Linked DNA regions of Homo sapiens: regions 1, 2 and 4 are each linked to region 3. Evidence: fine-mapped expression QTL. A gene starts in region 3. Each other region holds a variant in brackets. All regions are shown on one strand. Distances are between the middles of the regions.

Region 1 (6,204 bases), 34 kb after region 3:
TTTCGAAACTTTCGGAGTTGCATATTTGCATTGGCCTTACTAGAAGAACAAACGGATCAAACTTGTTTATTTTTCACAGGGGTGTTGATGAGGTCCTTGTTAGGCACTTTTGCCCCATCCTCTTTGCTAGGACTAGGGGAGAAAAGAACTAAGAATTAGTTTATGCTTTCTGGATGCTGAATCAAGTAACTGCCTATGTCTCTCTCTTTGAGTTGGCTGCTTGAAGGCTTAGAGCCTAAATTTTGGCCACAGTATGCATGTTGAGTAGTTCACTCTTGGCTGCTTCTTATTTTTCTTTACCTAATTTCTTCACTTACTTTTTGTTTGTTTGAGATAGAGTCTCTCTCTGTCAGGTAGGCTGGAGTGCAGTGGCATGAACACGGCTCACTGCAGCCTTGATCTCCTGGGCTTAAGTGGTCTCCCACCTCAGCCTCCTGTGTAGCTGGGACCACAGGTGTGTGCCGCCACATGTGGCTATTTTTAATTTTTTGATTTTTTTTTGTAGAGACAAGGGTTCACTGTGTTGTCCAAGCTGGTCTGGAACTCCTAGGCTCTAGCAATCCTCCCGCCTCAGCCTCCCAAAGTGCTGGGATTACAGGCATGAGCCACTGGGCCTGGCCAAGTTCAGAGCCCTTAATATATCAATAATATTTGTTTTAAGTTTCTTATCTGATAATTTCAAAATCTGAATCACATCTAAGTCTGATACTGATGCTTGTTTTGTCTCTTTAGACTGTATTTTTTCCTTGCCTTTAGCTTATCTCATAATTTTTTTTGTTGGAAGTGATCATGATATATCTGGTAATAAAAACTGAGTTAATTAGGCTTTCAGTGTAAGGCTTTATGTTAATTTGGCTAGGAGGTGGGCTATGTTTAATGTTAACTGTAGCTATATGTGCCAAAGGCCCTACCCAGACTAACTTACTTTTTTAATGTAACCTTATCTCTTGTGTTTAAACGTTGTTCCAATCAATACATTTAAAAGTACATTTGTAATAATCAATACATTTGATACAATGTATAAAAAACACACATGTAGCAATTGATATATTTGTAATGATTGATACATGTATAGCAATCAATGAGTTTAAAAAATTTGCAATGTTTTATATTTGCAATGATTTATATTTAAATCCATTATTGGAGGATAGCCTGGTATAAACACAAAAAACAACAGATAGACACTATTGTTTTCTAGATGTACTGATGAAATATCCAGTAATTTTAAAAGAACATGGCTGTTGGTGGAGGAAATGGGGTACAACATGCTTTTACTTTGGTCAGTGGCTTTTCCAAATTGTTTTCATCTAGGACTTCCCAAAAGAGGATCACTTGGGGAAACTGAGGCATCTTAATGCCTTTTAAATCTGCAGTAACTCAGGTCTGTCTGCTTAGCAGCGTCCAAACTGACCATTGTTTCTAGATTTCTAGGGTTCTCGCTGATGTCTGATTCATCATTGTCTCTAGTGTCTTCTTGATATTAACGGGGATCCCGGAAACAAACAAAAAAGTACACTTTTTCCATGTACATACACATATACGTTGTATAAACCATATTTTAAGAAAATGACATTTTAAAAGAAGCCATTCCTCTTAATCAATTCCTCTTTTCATTCTCCTTACTCCTAACTGTGCCCTGACTATGGTGATGGTGCACATATTTTCTTTAAAAATGAGGGAATGGCCATTCGAGGAAAATCTGCTTCGAATCTGAACTTATTTTCTACTCCACTCTGGGAGATCCTTTATAATATGGTATAAAATGAGGCCTCAATTTCCTCAGCCTATAAAATATCCAGAGGTATTCAAAGCTGCCTTCAAAATGCTGGAAACCATGCCATCTGAGACTCAGAGGAATAGCCTACGCCTCACATTTGGAAATGTTGTTAAAACCTCATCCCAGAAGTTCATCGTTTTCCTTCACTCTACGAATCCTGCTTTCATTTGTGTGAAATGTGTCCTGGTGGAAATAGCAAGAGTGAAGCTGGCTGGGGCTGCTGGGACCCCGTGAGCCAGTGGTGAAGGCAGTGGGGGATGTTCTGCTGGAAATAACAGAACTTGAAAACAATGAACTCATATGATGGGGTTTGCCTGCTAAGTCATTCCTTGGTCCCTTCCATTCAATTCTGAGAATGGGTCTTAATAGGCAAGGCCCCCTCAGAAGCTGGGGAAAATGACCAGGAAAAAAAAAGGCTCACTGGGTATATTTAGTGAAGAGAAAAGAGCACAAAATATAATTCACTCTTAGACCAGTGCTGTACAATAGAACATTCTGTGATGATGGAAATGTTCTATATTTGTGCTGTCCAATATGGTAGCCACTAGCCATATGTGGCTACTGAACACTTGAAATATGGCTAGTGCAACAGAGGAACTGAGTATTTAATTTTATTTCACTTTTATTAATTTAAATTTTAATTGCCACATGATGGTAGTGGCTACTGTCTTGGACAGTGCCGCCTTAGACAATTTTGAGGATAATGAAGTATGATTTGGCTCGCAGACATGCAAAATGCTAGGCCTGCTCAGTATTTCTTAGCTACTTTCTATGTGTCTAAGGCTGTGATCCCCAAGGATTTGTATCACTCAAAATAAGTATGGCTGTGTGCCAGCTTGTTTATCTCTGCCATTTTTGCTATAGGTTCCTTCCTCTGCAAACAGACTTTCTTTCTTTTCAGCTTGCTTTTTGCAGAGAGCCAGAAAACAAGGCTGCCTGCCAGCACTTTACCCCCATGGCTAGGCTCAGAGAGGATGAGAGCTAGTCTCTCAGGGAGGATTTGCTGAGACAGATCTCTCCAGTGGTGAGGGCTGGGGCAGTCTGCCTTAACACGACTCAGTTACCTTCTCCTAACAGAACGCCAGGTGAATTTAAATTACTTACAGATGGGGAATGTAGGTCACTAGCAAAGCGAGGTCCTGAACAAATTGTGAGCCTGACAATGCTACTTCAAGTTCACCTCTAGCTGGGGCTATGTGACTGTTGAAAATCAAATACAAGACCCTAAGTATGGGTTTGCTAAGTCATTTCAATGCCCTGTAAGTGGTAACTCCAGCAGTCTTACCCCTAATTAGGAAGTTGGCCCAGATCACAGGTTGTGGTAAACCATCATGACCACA[G/T]TTTGCAGCCCTGGCCTGGGTCACAGCATGGCCCGCAAATTCCAAAATCAGATGATAGCAGCTAAAAACTAGACCCACAGTGCATGATAAGTGTGTGTGTATCCATACAGCGATTCATTAAAAACACGGATTAAGTGGTTACTATTCACCAGGCCCTAAGCTGGGAGCTAGACATTCAGGAAAGAAGGAAAAAAAATCCTCTGCCTTCAAGTTGCTCACCATCCAGTGGAAGACATAGCAGAAAAGACTCAAATATTGCAATAGACTGTGGTAAGAATGTGTCATGATAGGGTGAATGGGATATTGTGATTGTGGAGCCTGGATTCAGCTTTGAACTTCACCAAGGCAGCTTCCTAGAGGAGATGGCACGGGTGCTGGACCTGAAAACAGAGTAGGAATTTGTCAGGTGGGCAAGGGAGTTCTAGGCCAAGGCATTTGTCCAGAGGAATAGAAGCAGGAGAAGCTTGGTATATTTGGGGTAGCCCAGGTGGTGTATTCTGACCCTCAGTGTATGTGTAATGACCCAGAATTACACAGAACTGTCTAAAATAGAAAGTCCAAAAAACTCTTTTGCCTCAAATTTCATGACCCAGAGACAACCACTGTTAACTGTTTGATGTATCCTTATAGACTGTACACATAAGTATAAGAAATGGTGCTTTTACCTAGTAACTGCTCAATAAAGTTAGTTCCATAAATGTTGACTCTGTGTGTGTGTGTGTGTGTGTGTGTGTGTGTGTGTGTGTGTGTCTGAAATGGCCACAAAGTTCAGCTCAGACTCCCTCATTCTCCCCCAAACATGAGCTCTCCATGTTCTCCTGGTCATCTCCCTCCATTCTCAGGCCTGGAAATCAGGAGAGAGAGCCTTGGCAGCTGGTTTGAGGTCTTTGTTGATGAGACACAGTCTCAGGCATAGAGCTTTCTGGCCACTGAATGTCATGGTTTGGCTGGGAGGTTGGTTTTAGAATCTCCTACCCCCAAATCCCATCTCATCTAAAGCTATGCCCCATTTGAACCCTGAAGAGAATCCCCCTAGTAGGGCTGCCTCAAAGCCATAGTTGCCATTTAAAATCGACTTTGCTCCCATTTGCCTGGTTCTTTAGCACTTAAAGTGTGGCTCATGGACCAGCAGCATCAGTACCTCCTAGAAGCTTCTTAGGAATGCAGAATCTCAAGCCCCACTCTATCCGAATCCGTAGGCTAACAAGATCCCCAGGGGATTTGTGTGCGCATCACAGTTTAAGAAGCTCTGGCCCAGTCAACACAACCTCTTTTTGTGACAGAAACCCAATTGTTGGCCCTTCACCTCAGCTCAGCCAGCCCTTCCCCTTCTCCCTCACTTGCTTTGGCTTTTGAAACCACCCTAAAGAGAAAATGGTAAATTTCTGGAAGGTCACTTGTGACATTTTCTTCTTGGATTAGCTAGGAGCCCTTCATGCTCTTCCTGACCCTCCAAACACTCCCAGTTCCCCTTGGAATTGCTACTCTCAGCTTTGATCCTCTGCTGGTCCAGCTTTGTGGCTTCTGTCCACTGCCTCTGCCTCACATTTTTAGTTATGCAGAGAGATGGCATGGGACAGTTAACCCATGTATGACTCATGGTACTCACGTGCCAGGATTCCAACCCTAAGCACTTGTATTGCTTTGGGCAAGTTACATCACTTCTCTGTGCCTCATACGTGAAAACAGGGGATACTGACAGTTCCTGCCTTTCAGGGTTGTTGCAGGGAGGATTATGTGAGTTAATAAGTATATATGAAGCATCATACGTGGGAGCTCTTTGTGGCAGATGAATACTAGCTGAACACCAAAATCCATGATTATTTTTTCTCTCTGGGCACAAGTGAAACTTTAAGTTTGGGCACATGGCTAAATTTTCCAGCCTTCCTTGCAATTAGATGTGGCCATAAGAGTGAGTTTGAGCTATGAGAATGGAAGCAGAAGTGATGAACATTACTTCCAGGCTTGACCCATAACATCTCTCATGTATGTTTCTCCACGTTCTTCCACTTGGCTTGAATGGAGACCACCTCTGGGGTGGCCTTGGAAGCTACATGTTGAAAATAGCAGAGGCTTTGTAAGCTGTTTACCCCTTCTGGACTACTATAGGAGGGAGACATACATTTTTGCTGTGTTTGAACCATTATTCATTTTTTTAGTCCATTTATTACAGCAGTTAGCCTACCCTAACTAAGATACCATTATTGTCTGCCCTTGTTAGCTCACCTGCCTGCCCTGTCCTCCCGCACCCTCTCTTGGATCTGGCACTAGCTACCTCCAACCCTTCTGTGACTACCTTTATTGTTCATAGTATGCTTCAGACAGAGGCTGGCAAACAGGCCAGATGGTTTTGTTGCAATTACTCAACTCTGGCATTGTAGCATGAAAGCAGCCAGACAATATGGGAATAAATGGGCATGGCTGTGTACCAATAAAACTTTATTTACCAAACAGGAAGCAGGACACATTTGGCCAGAGGGTCACAGTTTGCCAACCCCTGCTGTAAGTCCAATTTTGGTTGAAACTGGCAGAACCTCAGAGAATCATATTTGACTTGATTGACTGATGATTTTTACAGAACTGCCTTGATAATCATATCTGTATTATTTTTTCCCCAGAATCCAGGACGTTTCCATTCTAAGTCCAGTTCAGTGCAGACTATAGAGAAGTTGTGGATCTCTGCTATAATGTCAGCCTGCTTTTCTGAGCCAGATGATAAAAAAAATTTAGTCTACTTGCCCCTGTGATTATTTCACATTTTCTCTTGTCAGCTAGCTGTTGCCGTTCTCTCACTATTCTAGATGGTTCTCTTTTCAATGTGGTGAATCTGGCAGCTCCATTTCCCAGAAGACCCTTCCCTGTGTGGTTCTAGGTTAGAGTAGGTCAATGGAAGAACTTGTGTGAGATTTGAAGGGCAGAAGCAAAGAAGCAGCCCTTAACCTTGGAAGATTTTGAGGCCAAAGAGGGTGAGGGACAGACATGGAGGTGCCCAGCAGCTCCCAGTTTATCCTGCTTCTCTATCACCTGCATCTAGCTTTTTTCCCTAACTCTAGGCTGCTGACCATCAACAGTCTCAGGCCCACTACC
Region 2 (6,204 bases), 26 kb after region 3:
GGAGAAAGTCAAATTGTCCCTGTTTGCAGATGACATGATCTTATATATAGAAAAACCTAAAGACCGTACCAAAAAGCTCTTAGAACTGATAAATTCAGTAAAGTTATAAGATAGAAAATTAACATAGAAAAGTTGGTAGCATTTTCTATACACAGTGAACTAGCTGAAAAAGAAATCAAGAAGGCAATCTCATTTACAATAGCTACCAAAACAGTTTTTTTAAATACCTAGAAATAAATGTACCCAAGGGGGGGAAAGATCTCTACAAGAAAAACCACAAAACATCAATGAGAGAAATTGAAGAGGATACAAATAAATGGAAAGATATACCACGCTCATGGATTAGAAGAATTAATATTGTTAAAATGACAATACTACCCAAAGCAATCTACAGATTCAATGCAATCCCTATCAAAATACCAATGGCATTTTTCACAGAAATAGAAAAAACAATCTTAAAATTTGTATGGAACCACAAAAGGAGAAACTGGGGGACAGAACTGGGGAAGCTACATTGCCATCAGACTTCAATGCAAGTCTGACCCCAAGTGAGGAAGAGAAGTTTGGTGAAAGAATCCGACTGCTAAGCAGACAAAAGGAAGGTTTGGCAGAGCTGCCTGGAAGTCTTGAAGTCAGAATCTTCCATTAGAGGAAACTTGTGTATCCCAGTAATGGGCTGGCTTAGTACCCACCACACTCAGTCATCAGCAAGGGCAAGGCATGGGAGGGGTGGCCTTGGCACAAATGCTGTGATGAATTTCAGAGGCAGCAGCTGGGGCCGTCAGTCACTTCAGCTCCTTGCAGTTAGACATCTGCAAGGTGTATTTTAACAGCCCTCATGTTTACAAATCACCCCTTTCCACTGAGGTCCATTTGGGAATTGTCACAACTAGCCCATCTCTAGTCCTGCCTTAATCTTTTTGCTTAAGTTAACTATTTATAAAGCTGTGTATAGTTCATTTTCCCAAAGGTGGATTTAATTATTCTGAAGTAACTTTTCTGTTTTCATGCAATATTGTTGGTAATGTAACTCTTTCAATTGTGGTTAAAAAATAATTGGACTGGTGAATTTTGGCAACTGAAATCAAGTTTCAGGTGCTCAGAAGAGGCAGATCAAGTTAACACTGTGCAACATGAGTTCTGATAAGGCCTGCATCTTTGGGTGTGTAAACATTACCTAAGCACCTGTAGGGCAAAAAGCCAGGGCCAAAATATGATGGAGCAGGTGCAAGCGATGAAGGAATAGTAAAAGGAGGCTGCCAACTGAAGCCAAAAATATAAATGGGAACAATAGCAGGCCCCAGTGGTGAGAGAAAATTCCCCAACTCTGCTAATCTCCTGTGCCCTTACAAGGGCTCCATGTGACAGAACTGCAGTGCTTCAGCAAAATCCCTTTGAGCAGAGGAATAGGAATGCTTTATTTGCATGTATTTGGGCCAGAGTTTGTCTCTTATTTCATGGTTTGTTCTTCTAGTTTGTATGAGAAGTGGAGATTACAAAACTCGGCACATTTGTGGGAATGGACTTCAATGCCTGGCTGTGAAATTAAACCCAGGGAGAGATAGGGGGTGTTTCTTCAATGTGGTATGCTGGCTTCGCCCACATAGTCCCCCTGACATCTATCTGTAGGAGCGAAACTCAGAACCGAGTTATCGAAGCACTGGAAATGCTTCTTGGCTCTCAGCACTTTCCCCAAAATTTCAATGAACACTGCCCAAGTCTTCTCTCTACATGCAAAGCCATTTTGGAAGAATTTTAAACTGTAGCAAGAAAAGAGGTTTCCAGAATTTGTGGTCTTAAACTGTTTATTCATTTAAAATATAGTATTTGTTTAAAATTTAAATGTATGTTAGGTAGTCTTTTTTTTCTTTTTTTTTTTTTTTTTTGAGATGGAGTCTCTGTCTGTTGCCCAGGCTGGAGTGCAGTGGTGTGATCTCGGCTCACTGCAACCTCTACCTCCCGGGTTCAAGTGATTCTCCTGCCTCAGCCTCCCAAGTAGCTGAGACTACAGGCGCATGTCACCACGCCTGGCTAATTTTTGTAATTTTAGTAGAGACGGGGTTTCACCATATTGGTCAGGCTGGTCTCGAACTCCTGACCTCAGGTGACCCCCCCACCCCCCACCCCCGGCCTCCCAAAGTGCTGGGACTACAGGCATGAGCCACTGCACCCGGCCTGGTAGAAAAAATTTTTAAAGGAGAAAAGGACATGCCATGGAAACCACTGCTCCTTCTCTCTCCAGTGACAATATGGAGCCTTACCTGAGCCCTACACACCTGGAAAACAGCAGAAGGCTCAGAAACCCCCTCACCCACTTTTTTTGTGTTGCAGGAAATGACTATTGCAAAGAACCACCTTTCCTCATATGATGATTTAGATAACCCCCCCTCGTTTACCTAGTACAAAGCCAGATACAGATTCTCCAAATTTCTATTCTTTTCCTTAAAAATGACTAGCTGAGCTCTTTTGTCCCTGCTGATCAATCGGGACAAAATGCTCTTTCCCCAAGACTCTGACATTCTGGCCCAGCCGCAGTCTAAACCAGCCACTCCAGAGAACAAGCTGGCCTGGGGGTAAAACCTTCTCTGATCTGCTGTTCCACGATGCCACTCTCGTTCATCCCACTGCCCACCCCTGCTCATTTTTGGCTTGATTTACTCATTCCTATAAAAGAAAAGTCATTTTTGCCTAAACCTTGAGAAGCTTGCAGATCTTACTGTTGGTGTATCCTGCCTAGAGCAATAGTCCCTTGCACCCCCTTACAATAATACTAATCACCTTTACCTACTAAATCTGGATTATTATATTTAGTTTTCTATGTGACATCAGTCCCTCAATTTTTCTCCCTGAAGATAACCACTGTTACCTTTTTTTTCAGACCTTTCCTTAGTCTGTGTATTTATAAAAATATGTTTGTAAATATTTACCCTGCTTCTACTCTTATTTTCATTTAACATTGTAGTTTACAGATTATTCCAATTATATTTTAAGGTTATAAAGTCTTCCATGGCATTTTATGGGTGCACCATCATTTACTTAAACAGTCCTCTCCTGACAGATATTTAGGGTGTTACATAAACTCCACTGTAATGAATTTTACATATATTTGATATTATGCATATGTGTGAGTATGTCCATGAGAGAAATAACTAGTTGGGGAATTTCTGGGTCAGAGCGCACAGGCAATTTTAATTCTGGTAGACAGTGCTGAATTGGGCCCCAACTGAGATTTATAGAATCAGAATTTGCACTTTAACAAAGCCCCAGGTGATTTTTTTTCTTTTCACATTAAAGTTTGGGAAGCTGCCCCTAAAGCAGCAGTTCTCACCCCTGGCCACATATTTTACTCGCCTTGGGAGTTTTTAAAAATTCTGATGCCCGGGGCTCATTTCAGACCAATGAAATCAGAATTTTGGCCGGGCGTGGGGATAGGGGT[G/A]AAATCGATGCATCAGGATTTTTTAAAAGCTCCCCAGATGATTACAAGTTGGCAGTTATAAATGATCTATTTTATTATTACCTGCTTCTTTTTAAAAATGAAAAAGCAGAATATTTTTAAAAGCCAGTTACATAAGGGTTTGGTGAGGAGTGTTCTGGCTAACTACATGATTATACTTGGCTGGATGAAATGAGTTTGGCATAATACTGACTCATAATAATAGTGTTTATACATAGCATTTTATGTTTTGCTGTATGGCATCTGATTTAAATTCTCTTTCATAAACCCTGTTGGAGCACTAACTTTGTACCAGGTTCTTTGCTAGGTACCGAGAAAACTGGACTGAGGTATGTCTTATTTATGCCATCAAGAGGCCTACAGTTTAGGGCATGTCATAACCAGCCATGGGCATATTGGGATTTCAGTAACATGGGCCAGTGGGTGAAAATTGGGCCTGTCGTACTCTGGAGAGAAAGCCAGCAGTCCAAGTTACAGTGTTTAGAGTAGCCTGGTGAATTGGACTTGATTAAAGCATCAATATGGGGGAAAGTGGGGAGGCAATGAAGAAAAGCCTAAATTTGCTCTAACGAGTTTTGGGCATGATTCGTTTTTGCTAGGCTGTAGGATGGGCAAATCAGGAAAAGAGTAGCATCATGGTTTTCTTGGATTTTCAGGGTAGAGTGGGGCTCTCACCAGCAGCAGAGCATTCAGGGATGGGGCCCAGTTTCCAGGAGAAGGGGGACTAGCTTACACTAGATCTGGAAAGCTGAAGAGGACGTACAGACTGCAGCCATGTGGTAGGAACTGGACAATCATGGCTGGGTCTAGGGAAGTCCGTAGACTGGTAGCCATTCAGGACACTTGGGGCTCCCACTTCCCATAGGCAGAAAAAAAAGAAAAAGAAAAACCATGATGTGGACAGCAAGGCTAATTCTTTGTGTGTGTGCGTGTGTTATTTGGTTATATGAGTAAGTTCTTTAGTGGTGATTTGTGAGATTCTGGTGCACCCATCACCCGAGCAGTATACACTGAACCTCATTTGTAGTCTTTTATCCCTCACCCCCTTCTCACTCTTTCCCCCAGAGTCCCCAAAGTCCATTGTGTCATTCTTATGCCTTTCCATCCTCACAGCTTAACTCCCACTTATGAGTGAAAACATTTGATGTTTGGTTTTCCATTCCTGAGTTACTTCACTTAGAATAATAATCTCCAATCCCATGCAGGTTGCTGCTAATACCATAAATTCACTCCTTTTTATGGCTGAGTAGTATTCCATCATATATATACCACAGTTTATCACTTGTTGATTGATGGGCATTTGGGCTGGTTCCACATTTTTGCAATTGCAAATTGTGCTTCTGTAAACATGTGTGTGCAACTATCTTTTTCATATAATGACTTATTTTTCTCTGGGCAGATACCCAGTTAGTGGGATTGCTGGATCAAATGGTAGATCTATTTTTAGTTCTTTAAGGAATCTCCACACTGTTTTCCATAGGGTTTTACTAGTTTACACTCCCACCAGCAGTGTATAAGTGTGTTATTCTACAGTGAAAATAGTTTCTAAAAATTAAAAATTCTAATCTTGAAGTACGAAGTTAAATCCTTCTAAGGATATTGTTTGCAGTTGGTGCAGAAGTCACAGTTCCTTTATTTATTTATTTATTTACTTAATTAATTTTTGAGACAGAGTCTTGCTCTGTTGCCCAGGCTGGAGTGCAGTGGCACAATCGCATGATCTTGGCCCACTACAACCACTGCCTCCTGGGTTCAATCGATTCTTATGCCTCAGCCTCCTGAGTAGCTGCGATTATAGGCACACGCCACCAAACCTGGCTAATTTTTTTTTTTTTTTGTATTTTTAATAGAGACAGGGTTTCGCCTAGACATGTTGCCCAGGCTGGTTTCAAACTCCTGGCCTCAAGCAATCCACCTGCCTCGGACTCCCAAAGTGCTGGGATTACAGGCATGAGCCACTGTGCCCAGCCCCCAGAAGTCACAGTTCTGTTGCGGACTATAAGTGAGGGCCAGAACATAGATCTTTTTTATATTTTTCAAAAGTATGAAATGAAGTGAAATACGTGCAGGTCAATATGTTTATGACTCTTTTATGGTTATTTCTTCCAGCAGTCTTTAAGATAGTAAATATAGGAACTTCAAATGACTTCTCATGAACCATATCACTATACATGCTCTCTTTTTTCCTGCAAATCGGGTTATTTTCTTTGAAATAGGAATAGGAAATTGAATGGAATGGAATGTCCTTCCACCCATCTTTCATCAAAGGAATTTTTATTGTAAGTAGCACCAGAATCCTGGGCCTGCCTCTTGAAAGGAAAAATGAAACACATCTCTTCCCACCTCCTCTGCCAACAGGCATTAGCTATCCCAAATATTAACAGAGATAACCTCCCAGCAAAAGATGTAGGCCCTTAGATTTCCTTATAAGCCCTTAGAGGAAGAAAAAAATATACCGCCCTAATCCCGAGTAATTCCTGAGCTATGCAGCTCAAACAGAAAGTCAAATAAAATAAAAGTATATCTTTCTTAAGTGAAAACTGTTTTGCAATGAAAGTCAGGGTTATTTATACTGGCTGTGACTGAGTGTTGCCCTCAGAGGCATCTTTGCATTTCCCACAAGCCATTACAAGTTGGGTGCTGCTCATCTTTGGTGGAGAGAAACCAGTTCCTGATCATATTCCCCTCAGCCAGACCCGCCATCAGCTGGTTCCCCTTAAGTCCTTATCTCCCTGTTACGTCCCACTACC
Region 3 (6,204 bases):
CAATTACCCACATAGCATGTGGTCTCTGTAAGTAAAGCCTCTCAGCAGGAACCTAGTCATTCCCTCCTCTCTCACATTATTTTTACTTGAATTCAGTAGAGAAAAAAATATAAAACAGAAATATGTTGTAAGGAAGGAGTTGCTCCAAACGTTAATCTCCAGAATAGCAAAGTTAATAATATATTTATCTTAGGTACTCAAGGCAAAAAGATCCCAGTGTTAGGACTTAGAACACTCGAGATGGAGTTCAGATCAATAAGTGTTCTAGACCAGCACTGTCCAATAGAAATAAATATCCATATATGCCATTTAAAATTTTCTAGTAGCCACATTTTTTAAATGCTAAAGAAACAGAAGCAATTAATCTTAATAACAATTTTATCTAATGCAGTATATCCACATTACCATTTCAACATGTAATCAATATCAAATGATTAGTGAGATAGTTCCTGTTCTTTTTTTTGAAAATTAGATGTGTATTTGATACTTTTTGCAGCACATCTCAACTTGGACTGGTCACATTTCAGGTATTCAATAGCCACTTGGGGCTCCTGGTTACCATCTTTGCTGTATTGGACAGGTCTAGGGTATCTAAATAGTTCCAATACCCAAAGGACATAAAAAATATAAGGCAAGCCAAATTCTGAAGCTTAAGGGCAGGTACATGCATGGAGCTAATGATTTATTCATTTGATGAGCGTTAATTGTGTACTATGCACTAAATACCATTTAAGAAGCACATAATTTTCTAGGTTATAAAATCATAGTGCAGTGTTTCAATTAAAAAGAACTGATGCTTATACTGGAAATCTCTATACAGCAGCCACAGTTTTTCCTATAAGTTGTGAAACCCCAGGAAATAACCAGTAGACACAGTTTTCTGCAATGGGTGCCTTGCCTTCTCTGTAACAGTGTCTTATCCATAATGTGGAATCTAGAGCTGATTAAACATGGGTCCTGGACATTCCTGAAGAGCTGACCACTTGACATTTCCAAGCACATTGAGCAAATAATAAACACACCAGCTCATAAACTTGATAATCGTCTAAAGAAACCATGGTTCACATCTTGAAAACTGCAGAATTGCAGAATCCTGACATGGATTCTCCAGTTTAATATGCTTTGGTTTATCCAGGGGCTTTTGGCTTTTAATTTAATTTGGTGGCACTTTGAAAGTGAAGCTCCTGGAGGTCAGTTTGCTGGCCGCTAAAGAACTATTAATCTCATCTCCAAACAGCATTTGGTCTTTTTTAAGTGGGCTTTCTAGCAACGCAAGAACCTCTAGCATTCAAGGAAAATGTGATTATGAGCAAATTGCATCTGCTTACATTTTTATCATGAAAAGGAAATTGAAACTTGCGATCATACATTCTAAGAACCTGGTTTGAGGTTTGTTCTGTTTTAACTTCGAAATCCTTTAATACCATGGCTAACTCTGATGAAATATTTTTTCCTGTAAGTCAAACAAAGATAGGCAAACCTTCGAGAAGCCTGTACCAAACCAAAGCTCTTATCCTACTCTCCTCAGGAATCATCACTGAAAAATTTCTATAGTTCAGCAGTCTCCGCTAGGAGCAATTGTGCCCTCCAGGGACCTTGGGCAATATCCCAAACCTTTTTTTTGTTGCCACAACTTGGTGGTGGTGGTGGTGGTGGGGGGTGGGGTGGGGTCAAGGTTGCTACTAGTATCTAGTGAGTAGAGGCCACAGGTGCTGCTAAACATCCTACAATGCACAGGGCAGCCCATCACCCCAACAAATAATTATCCAGCCCAGCCCGAAAGGTCAATAATGCTGCGGTGGAAAAACCATATTCTAGTGGACACCTAAGTAGAAAGCAAGACATCACAGTTAGAGAACCAGAAAACCTCTTCCGTTGCCGGAAGGCTGCCCTAGTGCCCTGGTGAAGAACAGACTTTGGGCCAGAATACCTAGGTTTGCACCCTGGCTCCATCTCTTACTGGCTATGCTTCCTCAGGCAAATTACTTTACCTCTCTGTGCCTCGTTTTTCTCTTCTACAACACGGAGATGATGATAATAGTACCTTACACACAGAGCCATTATGGCTTTGGGTAGGTTAATAGTCCTGAAGTGCTTAGAACAGTGCCAGGTCGACAGTCACCATGTAAGCGTGCATTTACTAAGCGTCTTTGCCGATCTCTGGAAAAAATATTTCAGGTCTCAGCTAAGCTTAAGGGCAGTAGGGAACGGCTTCAGAGTCTGCATTGCCATAGCAAGAATGAGAATGGTTGTCATCTGACAACCGTGTCCTTTCTTTCCAGTTCATCAACCCTAATCAGAGAGCAGTGAGGAGAGCAGCCCGGCTGGCTCAGCTCAAGAACAGTAAATGCTTTATCGTCCTCGGTTTCTTTCCCTCCTTCCCCAGCAAAACTAGCGACTGACAAGCACTTGGTGTCCTGTGAATAGAGTGGAAAACACAAAACCGCACAGACACAGAACCCACCCACCGACACGCATACCAACCCTCACACACCTGCCCCTACAGCAGGTCTGCAGACCATCAAGCCCGCACGCACCCACGGGTCTGCGTGCAGAGCCTCCCTCCTCCTGCAACCCTCCGGACGCAGCCAGGTGGGGCACAGCTGATGCAAAAGGAGCTAACTAGGTGCAAAGCCCCGCCACAGGAGAGCAGGGAGGAAAGCCCGTGGGCGCTCCCGGCCTGGTATCCAGGTTAAATCCCGTCGCAGCGCGCACAGGCACACGTGCACACTCACACCCATACACGCGGGGGTGCCTGCAAAGACATGGGGCCCCAAAGCGGGACCTCAGGCCGGGGGTGGGGGGAAGCCAATCGCCAGTCAGACACTCACCTGGCCGCGTTCCCGAAACCACCTGCCACCCAGGAGAGCAGCAGCGGGAGCGCAAGGCTCCAGGGCAGAGGCATTCTCGCACGGGTCCTCCTTCCTCCTCCTGAGCCCCCCTCGGGAGGGCGCCGGCCGGACCCCGTAGCAGCTAAGCCGCCGCCTCCTCTCTCCTCAGCCGCTCGGGTCCTCCGCTCCACTCGCAGTTACCGGGTGCTGTCCCTGCAGTCTGGGAGGGGAGGCCAGGCACCGCGGCAGGGGCGCTCGCGGCCTGGGGAGGGGCTGGGGGCGCCCTGGCAAGCCTGGCCGAGGCTCCTCTGCGGATGAAGCTGGACGGGGTGAGCGAGGGAGGGCGGGGCGGGCTGTGCACATCTGGCTGGGACCCGCCTCCAGCATGACCCGCGCATCCTCCGCGCTCTCTGTTCACCCAGAAACTTCCCCCAGATTCAGGTCACTTCACGCTTGTCAGAGTCACCATCTACTACCATGTATTTCAGGCATGGGGCAAATTTCGGTGATACCTGCACTCCAGGACTTAAGAATTTAGTTGAGAAGTCGAAGCAGGATGGAAGGATGCAGGTTCCTAAGACATGATCCCTCACTTCTCTTTGGGTTTTCACGTTCTCCCGGTTTTCTTCTACAAACTGCAAATAATGGGATGCTAGAGCTGGAAGGTCACTAAGTCCTGGGCAACCCTGTCATTTGGCAAGTAATCTCTCAGGCCCATTTGCAACAGCTTACTTACATGGGACCCCAGATGACATCCCAATATAGTAACCAGTGCAGAAATTCATGGCAGAAACATGAATGCTATATGAATTCAGATCCATTTGGGTACTGACACATTCTTTGTTCTGACAACGTGTTACATTAGAATGAATGACTGATCCCTTTCTGTCCTTCCTACGTCCACACCCTTTGGCTTCATGGTAGGCAGACACTATGACCCCACACCTTGGCTTTGGACTTGGCCGTGTGACTTGTTTGATCAATGGTTTAAGGGCAGAAAAGTTGCAGTGTTCCAGTTCCAAGCCTAGGTCTTAACACACCTGACCCTCTATCATGGACATGAGAAGACCTTGCACCACCTAGCCTGGTGGTCCAAGGCGAATGAGAAACAGGTGAAAAAGCTACCTCGTCAACCTGCAGATCTATAGCTTGAAGCAGAGCTACTCGGTGGAGCCTCATGTATATTACCCAATCCACACGTATATGAATGAGCTCAGCTAAGGTTGCCCGGCACCAGCCAATCTACTGAGGCTTATTGTGATAGTCCTCTGACACACAGTGGCCCAGTGTGAGAAATGAAATGAAAAAGGATACAGAGAAAGAGGAGGTTTATCTTGATTGGAAGCTTGATTCATGGTTTTATAGGCATATGCCTTAATTCTGGCCAATGAAATGTGAGAAGTAGGGAGGGGGGAGATTCTTGCTGCAGAATCTTGCTTTACATTGTAATAGATGTTCTTATTGGTGCAAGCCATGTTTAGTTGGGACTTCTATTTTACAGTTGAAGGTATCCCCATGGATTCAGTATTCTTGGGTAACTAGTTAGACCATTGAGCTGCTCGTAATTAATAGTGTCAGACCTTGTCCTAAACACATATGTTATCTGATTGAACATCCACAAGCCTGTGGATGGAGACCATTAGTTCCCCCATGTTTGAAGTGTCAAGAAACTGAGTCGGAGAGGTTAAGCAGCTTGCCCGACCAAGGTCATACAGCTAACAAGTATAGAACCAGAACTGGAAACCAGGGCTTTTCCCCATTGGGCTCTGCTGCTGTTATATCAATCTCTTTTCTCATCTTCTCACGTATTGGCAGATTCACATGTCAGATGAGTATCATGAATAAGGTAATAAGATGAGCTCTTCAAGGTTGTCATCAAAACACTTTGAACTCTTCATACCATAACTTATTTTATTTACTGAAATATTAAAACTAAAAGAAAATAATATAAGTTATGAACTCTATACCTGTGAGGATCTTAAAGAAAATGGAATATAAAATTTGTCTTGTTGTGGGTTTCCCCACAAGCAGGCCCTGAGGCAAGGATTCAAGTAAAAGTAGTTTATTCTGGAGGTACAGAGAACATGGGTAGGTGAGTGAGGAAATGAGTTGGGAAAGAAGACAATATCAGGCATATATTAAGTTATCATTGTGAGCAACTGGAGGTTCATGCTGCTGGGGATCTCCCAGAGCCAGCATAGAACAAGCATCTCCAAATGATTTTACCTAAAAGGCAAGGGAACTGGGTATTTATACACCACTTCCATTCACTCATTACCTGAAAGCTTCAACTGTGGTACTGATCCTAGAACTCAGTCTTCTGTGCTGAAGACAGAGTGGGGCTTACAGCCAAAGAAAGCCCTCAGGCAAATGGCTAGTGATACTGACTGTTGAAGGTCCTACTGAAATGTAAGGCCTGAGGGGATACGGGTAGTGGCATGACATTGGCAGCTACCTAATATCTGGAACTTGAATCGAATTAAAAATTATGGATTTTTGCCCATGCCACTTCTCCCTTAACATTTGGATACTAATCACTCCCTCCTCCAAATAAACCATTACTCAAAAAAGTCCTAACTAAACATGATTAGTCTAAAATGTGAGGGCTATCTGCCTTCTTAGTCCTGAGTTACAAAGTCAGAATAACATCTTGCATTGACATTATCTGTAACTTTCTAGCTTTAGTTTCAGTATTTTGATGCTTTGTGCTTTTTCTTTGTCAGCTGAATTCTCTTTTGTAGGCTTAAAGGAGGTAATGGACATTACAACAGGAAACTTTGGGGGAGGTCAAACACTCCCCAGCCAACCCACCTATTATTTCCTGGGGGAGCTGTGAACAAAAGAGCTGTCACATAATATGAGCAACAGAGAAGGAACCTGCAAATGATGTGTTGCCAGGTGAGAAGATGTTGGATACAAATTGCCACATGGAGGCAGTTGTTTTTAGTAACTGCACTGGTGTTGCTGACTTTGAAGAGGAACCTGGAAACTGATCTTTAGGGGACCCTACTTCATCATTCTACAGAGAAAAAACAATCTTTGATCAGAATCTCATAAAATCGTCCGTGCCTTTTACAGGGCTACATTTTCTTCCAATCTATTTCCACTTAACCCCCTGTGTGGAACAGGTGTGATGGGATATTTCTGTGCTTTCTGAATACATATACATGACACACGTATAAAACTTTTAACACTTACAATGTGCCAGGCACTGAGATCTAAAAATTATTGTAATATCAGCACCAAAAGCAAAGCATTGTCAGAAGAAAGAGCTGCATAGAAGAGTGCCTAGGCCAGTGTTTTCAAGATTTAATGTCAGTACAGGTTGCCTGGGGATCTTGTTAAAATGCAGATTCTGTTTATTTAGGTCTGA
Region 4 (6,204 bases), 48 kb after region 3:
TACCATGTGTATCTGAACTTGCTACCTTTTCCCAAAAGAATTTATTCAGATGCTCTGCTCAATAACAGGGAACTCTTAGATCATGCACAACCCCCCAAAGTTTCCAGGATTCCTTGATCACCCCACATTCAGAAAGATCCTGCCCATTTTGGGCCCAAGCTCATAGTGTAAAGCCTTCATTTCTGCCTTTTGGTGATAATGACACAGAAAGAGAAGGGCAGGACTCTAGGACTGATCTCTTTGGAGAAAGTTCAAAACTGCAATAACCACATGTCCTGTGCTCCTAGCCATTAGAAACCTAAGGCTGGACGCAAAATGTCTTGGGAAGTAATTCATAGTGGTATGGAAAACAGACCACAGGCTCAACAATTTAAACCAAGACATTGGCATTTATGAGAACTTTATTGCAAAGGAAGAGGAGAATGCCCACTAGCCAGAGACTTGAAACCCCATGCTGTGGTTCCTTGACTCTCAAAATTATGAACTGCTTTTAGAGCTGAGCATACTCAAGACACCCATCAATACCCACTCCCTTGTTTAGTAATGACTTTGTATTTACCAACAAGCTTCAAAAGATTAAACTGATACTTTCTTTGAAAACAAGGGTAATCACAGTAATCTGTTCAGAAGAAAAAAGGAAGTGTGCCAGTTATTAAGCTCTTGTCTCTCAGCCCCCAAATCACTCTGCTGCATTTCTGCTTTGCCGGTTGCTCCCTGTCAGACTCTGCCATGAAGGGATAATAGAGGGATGCAGCAAGACTGGAGGAGAGAGAAGAATGTGTTCCTTCTTGTTTATTAACATTCCTATTAGTGTCTTCTCATGAATGGTTCTCCCTAGCAGGTGGTTCCAATTCTTGTTTTTCCTCCTACATCATTGGAACCATCCTTATCCCACCCACTCAACCATCAGGACCACCAGAAAGTTTCCCCACTCAGAGCCATGGGTGACAGCCTCATAGGGACCCTCCTCCAATCTTCTAGGTTCAGAAACCTCTTCTCCCTGTTCCCACCAAGCCCTAGGGGTAGTGGCTGCTTCCTGCAGTTACAATCTCTGAGACAACTCAGGATTCTCTTTACTTGTCAGTTCTCCAACACCATTAACCAATTCCTTATATTAAATTCACTCTATTAAAATAACTGGTATAGATCCTGTCTTCCTGATGAAACTTTGACTGAAAAAGGAAGTATGACACTGAAGATTGGTCAAGAGTCATGGTATTTGTTCACATGAGTAAAACATTAATGATCTCTGTTAGTTGACCTCTTTAACTTTTGGATTAGATGACACGAAGCTCTATTGACTATGGAGAGATTGACACCACCGTTAATGGTGGACAGCATCCCTTCGTTATTATGAACTATGTTTTTCCTACTTATTTCATGGAATCAGTGAAGAAGTGACTATTAGGTACCTTGTGCATTGTGGGATGCAAGCACAGAGTCCTATATTCCAGTAATAATAGTTTCAGTTAATAGACCATGCATTTTTCATCATATCACAAAGAAGTATGATCTATGCCAGATGTCACCATGCTCTATTTTAAGTTTTTCTAGAGGACAGGCATTTCCACACCACATATAAAACTAAAAGGGACATTTTCACAGTAATGTAAGGGAAAGGAGACGTTTAGCACAACTGCAAGATGACATCCCTTATACTCTGTGCTCCAAGAAGCCTTCCTCAACAATGTTTTCTGAGTTTCCTCTGGGCAGGATTACCTAATCACAGCTGGTCTCCTCAGGGGTTGGGGATGTTCTGTCTAAATCAGCATTTCACACCTGAAAACAGAAAGCATACATTTTTCTTATAAAAATAGCTCAAGGGACAAAGGATACTTAATATGCCTCTTGAGGAAAGAATACAACACCACCTACAGACTTGCCAAAGTAATTGAACTTGAGTCCATTTAGACCTCTGAATCCAGATGTCAGTGGAAGGAAATAGAAGACAAAGGTCAGGGTTGAACTGCCCATGAATATGAAATAGCAAAATCCAGACACTTACAAATCTTATAGATTGACTGGCTTTGGTTTTTCAATAGGTAAATTATAAGAAAAGAAAGATGGAGGAAAACATATGTAATTCTTTTTCTTTCTTTTTTTTTTTTTTTTTGAGACGGAGTCTCACTCTGTCGCCCAGGCTGGAGTGCAGTAGCGTGATCTCGGCTCACTGCAATATCCGCCCCCTGGGGTTCACGCCATTCTCCTGCCTCGGCCTCCCGAGTAGCTGGGAATACAGGCGCCCGCCACTACGCCCGGCTAATTTTTTGTATATTTAGTAGAGACGGGGTTTCACCGTGTAAGCCAGGATGGTCTCGATCTCCTGACCTCATGATCCACCCGCCTCGGCCTCCCAAATTGCTGGGATTACAGGCGTGAGCCACCACACCCGGCCATCATATCAAGTTTTAAAAAATGAGCCAGACAAAACTCCAGTGTCTAGAGAGAGACACCGTCTGTTACAAAGATAAAGAAACACAAGGAAGTGATGACTAGAAGTCAGTGATGGTGGCTACTTTTGGGCTGTGACTGAACTAGGACAACTGAAGGGCTTTTGGGATGACTGCCAAAGCTCTATTTCTTGACCTGAATGATGGTTACAAGGCTGTTTATCTTATAAAAATTCATTAAGCTACGTCTTTGTTGTGCGTAGATATTTATATCTGGATTTTATTTCATGGCAAAGATTGAGAAAGAGAATAGCCCCTGGCAGCCTGGCACTATCAGCTAGACCAGGGGTGTCCAATCTTTTGGCTTCCCTGGGCCACATTGGAAGAAGAAGAATTGTCTTGGGCCACACATAAAATACACTAACATGAATAATAGCTGATGAGCTAAAAAGAAAATTGCAAAATAATCTCATGATGTTATAATAAAGTTTACAAATTTGTGTTGGGCCACATTCAAAGCCATCCTGGGCTGTATATGGCCCACAGGCTGTGGGTTGGACAAACTTGAGCTAGACTTTGATGTTGCTAGAAGCTGGCTTGGTACTTATGGTTGGGTCTTGGTGCCCTCCTATTGAACATAAATATTTTATAAACCAACAACATCAGACAAGGCCACTCTGTGACCATGATGGATAAAGATAAAAATAAAGACTGGCCTGTAATCATGTGTGACTACAGAAGACGGAGCATTGTGAGGTCACAAAAATGACCAAATATGGCCAGTAATAGAATTACCTCCACTTCTTAACAGCAACCACTCTAAAGCAAAACCTTGCTTCCTTAAACCCTCCCCTAAATCACCTAACATAAGCCCACACCCCAAAATAAGTTTTTTCTAAAAATCTCTTAATGAGATGTCCAATGGTTCCCCCATGGTGTGCAGTCTCCCTCATTGCAAAAAGCAGTAATCCCAATGTGTTCAACTATAGGTATGTTCCTGGCAGTCCTGGGCTGGAGGTCTTTGACAAGATAAACAACAAAGAAAGAAATAAAAATGAGAGAAAAAAAAGCCCAAGGGCTACCAGTCCCTGTCTGTCTGACAATGTTCCAGGCAACCAGAAATCTCTCCAAGTCAAGGTACATATTTGCCGTGACTGGGAATATTCAATTCTGTGTGCTGAAACATTTCTATTTCCTGATTCT[T/C]TGGGGAAATGGAGAAATACCATTGCAGTTGAGTGTAAATTGGAAAGCATGTTGGAAACATCTGGATATAAGTTCCAGAAATATCTGGCCTCTCTGCTGGCTTCACCCAGAGGGAGAAAGCCAGACTGCTTTGTAATAATCAGCAAGTCACTCTGAAACCACCTGACAGTTATCAAATTTAGGAATCTAAATTAGTCTGAGACCCAACACAGACATCTCCCGAAATATTCATATTCATTTCAGGTTGGAAAAGCTATTTTGTGCATGGCATAACCACAATCTCTTGTACTTGTGAGGCTTTATAAAGGCTTAAAAGAGCTTTCATATACCTGGTATTATTTTACCTTCAAAACAACTCTGAGAAAAACTGAAAATACATTGTTATACCTATTTTATGATGGAGAAAACAGAAAAGAGAAGTGACAATCTCAAGTACACATAACTAGCCAGGGCAAAAGCCAGGCCTCTGACCCTCTTAACTTTTCACTTTAGAAAATACTTAGTCATGACAAACCTTGATCCTTTCAGGGTTGATGTGATTGTTTGAAAGAGTCACATTTCATTTAAGCGAAGTCTGGACAATGAAGTGAGTAATACTTTTTATGGTTAAGGAAATGTAGAAGGTGTTATTCTTAAGAGTAAGAGTGATTTTTTTTGTAAGATATTTTCTGGCTCCTTGGTCAATTCTCTTTCCAAAATATCATCACACAGCACATCCAGGGGGACAATTAAACTTTCTGCTTTAGGGTAGAGTAAATACAGTTCGAGGGAATGGAGAGTTTGCAGGGAAACATGTTTAACATATCATCCCTCTATTGCTCTTCAGGGATTTGTGAACACGAACCAAGACAGTAAATTCTATGAAAACAATGGTACAATATTTGCTTCTGGAACTTTCTGTTCACCCACTCAAGAAATGCAGTATGACCAGGCCATGCCAGAAGGCCCTTTGTGTTCTGTGGTAACTTTGAGGCCCTTGGGTAAGTCATGGAACCTTGCTGAATCTCAATTTCTTTGTCTGTACAGCGAAAGGTGGGACTAGAGGAGCCCAGGGTGGCTTTTAGCTCTGTAATGCAATACTGTGATCTCAGCAGGATTTCACATCCCTCCTCTACTCATCTCTGATGGAGAGCGTAGCTTAGGTGATCATTTTACCTTTATGCCGAGACACACACAGAGGTTTTCCTATACCGTTTTCTTACGACAAATATCCATACACTCTTTTTATAACAAATAGTTTACAGTGCCTGTTTTCCTAGTTTTACATGAAATTCACAGACAATACAACCCACCTTTACGTACTTTTGCCCCAAAATTGGTATGATGCTCTAATAGTAATACAAAAGGGAATAAAATGAAAGTAATTCAGAATAAAATGTATTTAAACATGTAAACAGTCAAACATGACAACACTAGAAGTGTCCTTGCCCTCTGTCCTTCAGAAAAAAATTTTAAAGGCTCTGTGATCAAACAAATTTGGAAAGTTTTAGATTAATCCAAGTCCAACATTTTGCAGGACTTCTCAGAGACTTGAACATACTACTGTCCATTGCCAAGTTACAAGGGAGAATTTGGAATATAGCATTTTCCCAAATCTTAAGACCATGCAAGCCATTCTTTAGAGATGTTTTATGCAACTAGGGATCCTGAGGACATGCTTTGAGAAACTTTCCAACATCCATCACGAGGTACATCCAATCACGAGTGACAGCACGGCCCTGTGAACTGGTCATTGTCAAGGCTTAGTGTTATTGGGTGTAGGAACACAAACTAGAGCAGAAGCTCATTTAGCAACACCCTGGCCTTTACCCACTAGATTCCAGTAGCACTTTCCCACCCTTGCCAAAGTTCTGACAACAAAAAATGTCTCCAGACATTGCCAAATGTCCTCTGTGGGGCGAAATTGCCTCCTGTTGGGAACCCCTTATTAAGTAACATGCAATATATAACATTACTTTTCCCCTGCTCACATTTTATGAAAGATATTTTATTCAGATTCTCCACATTCAACTTCCAACAATGATGTCTTCACTATTCTGGGAAGCACTTCTGGAGCCATCTACAGGCATCTTCCAGGCTTCCACCATCTTTGTTTTTATCTAAGTTGTTTTGAGATACAGCCACTTGTCTCTGGGGACCACTGAGTATTCAATTCTCAGCCATGGTTTTTACGTTCATTCTGTATGTATTTGTGATCTTCAATCTTAATGGCAGATTCTATTGCTTCTAAAGAGCTTCTGGAAACAGCTTCACATTACCTGCAGTGCTAGTGACTACCACTTTCTGGTACCAGGGAAACATCTGCTGCTCTTGGCCATCTCAGGGGTCTGAGAGACTCTTGGAGATTCTCTTAAACTTCCTGCAGACACAGCAAAACGGATGTGCCTTTTGCTCCCACAGTACGCTGGGTACAGGGAACCCTAGGGTCTTTCTGCCCACTTGAGCTTTAGCCATGGACAGAGCATAAGTTCCCCTTGCATTCAGATCCTCAAAGCTAGGCTGGTCTTCCATTATTTCCTCCTCTCTGCCCTGACTTGGCCTTGTCAAGGGCACAGGCCTGCTCAGGGACCCACTGACATCTGAAGGATTTTCATTTACCTTTTATCTCTCT

Alleles and levels. Alleles are on the strand shown, and positions count from the first base shown. SD is a standard deviation of normalised expression in the study named. Not every link is listed here.
In carriers of allele T in region 1, the expression in subcutaneous fat of the gene that starts at base 3,166 in region 3 tends to be higher than with G alone (small effect, 0.12 SD a copy in GTEx).
With allele C in place of T in region 4, the expression in aorta of the gene that starts at base 3,166 in region 3 is higher (moderate effect, 0.73 SD a copy in GTEx).

What was found.
Region 1: its variant is fine-mapped to the expression of EGFL6 in subcutaneous fat (GTEx, PIP above 0.99).
Region 2: its variant is fine-mapped to the expression of EGFL6 in subcutaneous fat (GTEx, PIP 0.98).
Region 4: its variant is fine-mapped to the expression of EGFL6 in aorta (GTEx, PIP above 0.99). The same link has a PIP of 0.9 or more in gastroesophageal junction.

The regions. Positions count from the first base shown.
Region 1 is chrX:13,532,460-13,538,663 of GRCh38, reverse strand. No RefSeq gene overlaps it. Among named protein-coding and RNA genes, the nearest start is that of EGFL6, 34 kb to the left of the region's middle. The variant G/T (reference allele first, on the strand shown) is at 3,118.
Region 2 is chrX:13,540,480-13,546,683 of GRCh38, reverse strand. No RefSeq gene overlaps it. Among named protein-coding and RNA genes, the nearest start is that of EGFL6, 26 kb to the left of the region's middle. The variant G/A (reference allele first, on the strand shown) is at 3,437.
Region 3 is chrX:13,566,563-13,572,766 of GRCh38, reverse strand. EGFL6 (EGF like domain multiple 6) reads right to left here and starts at 3,166. Exons shown (of 12, transcript NM_015507.4): 1 at 2,832-3,166. The coding sequence starts at 2,905.
Region 4 is chrX:13,518,575-13,524,778 of GRCh38, reverse strand. No RefSeq gene overlaps it. Among named protein-coding and RNA genes, the nearest start is that of EGFL6, 48 kb to the left of the region's middle. The variant T/C (reference allele first, on the strand shown) is at 3,594.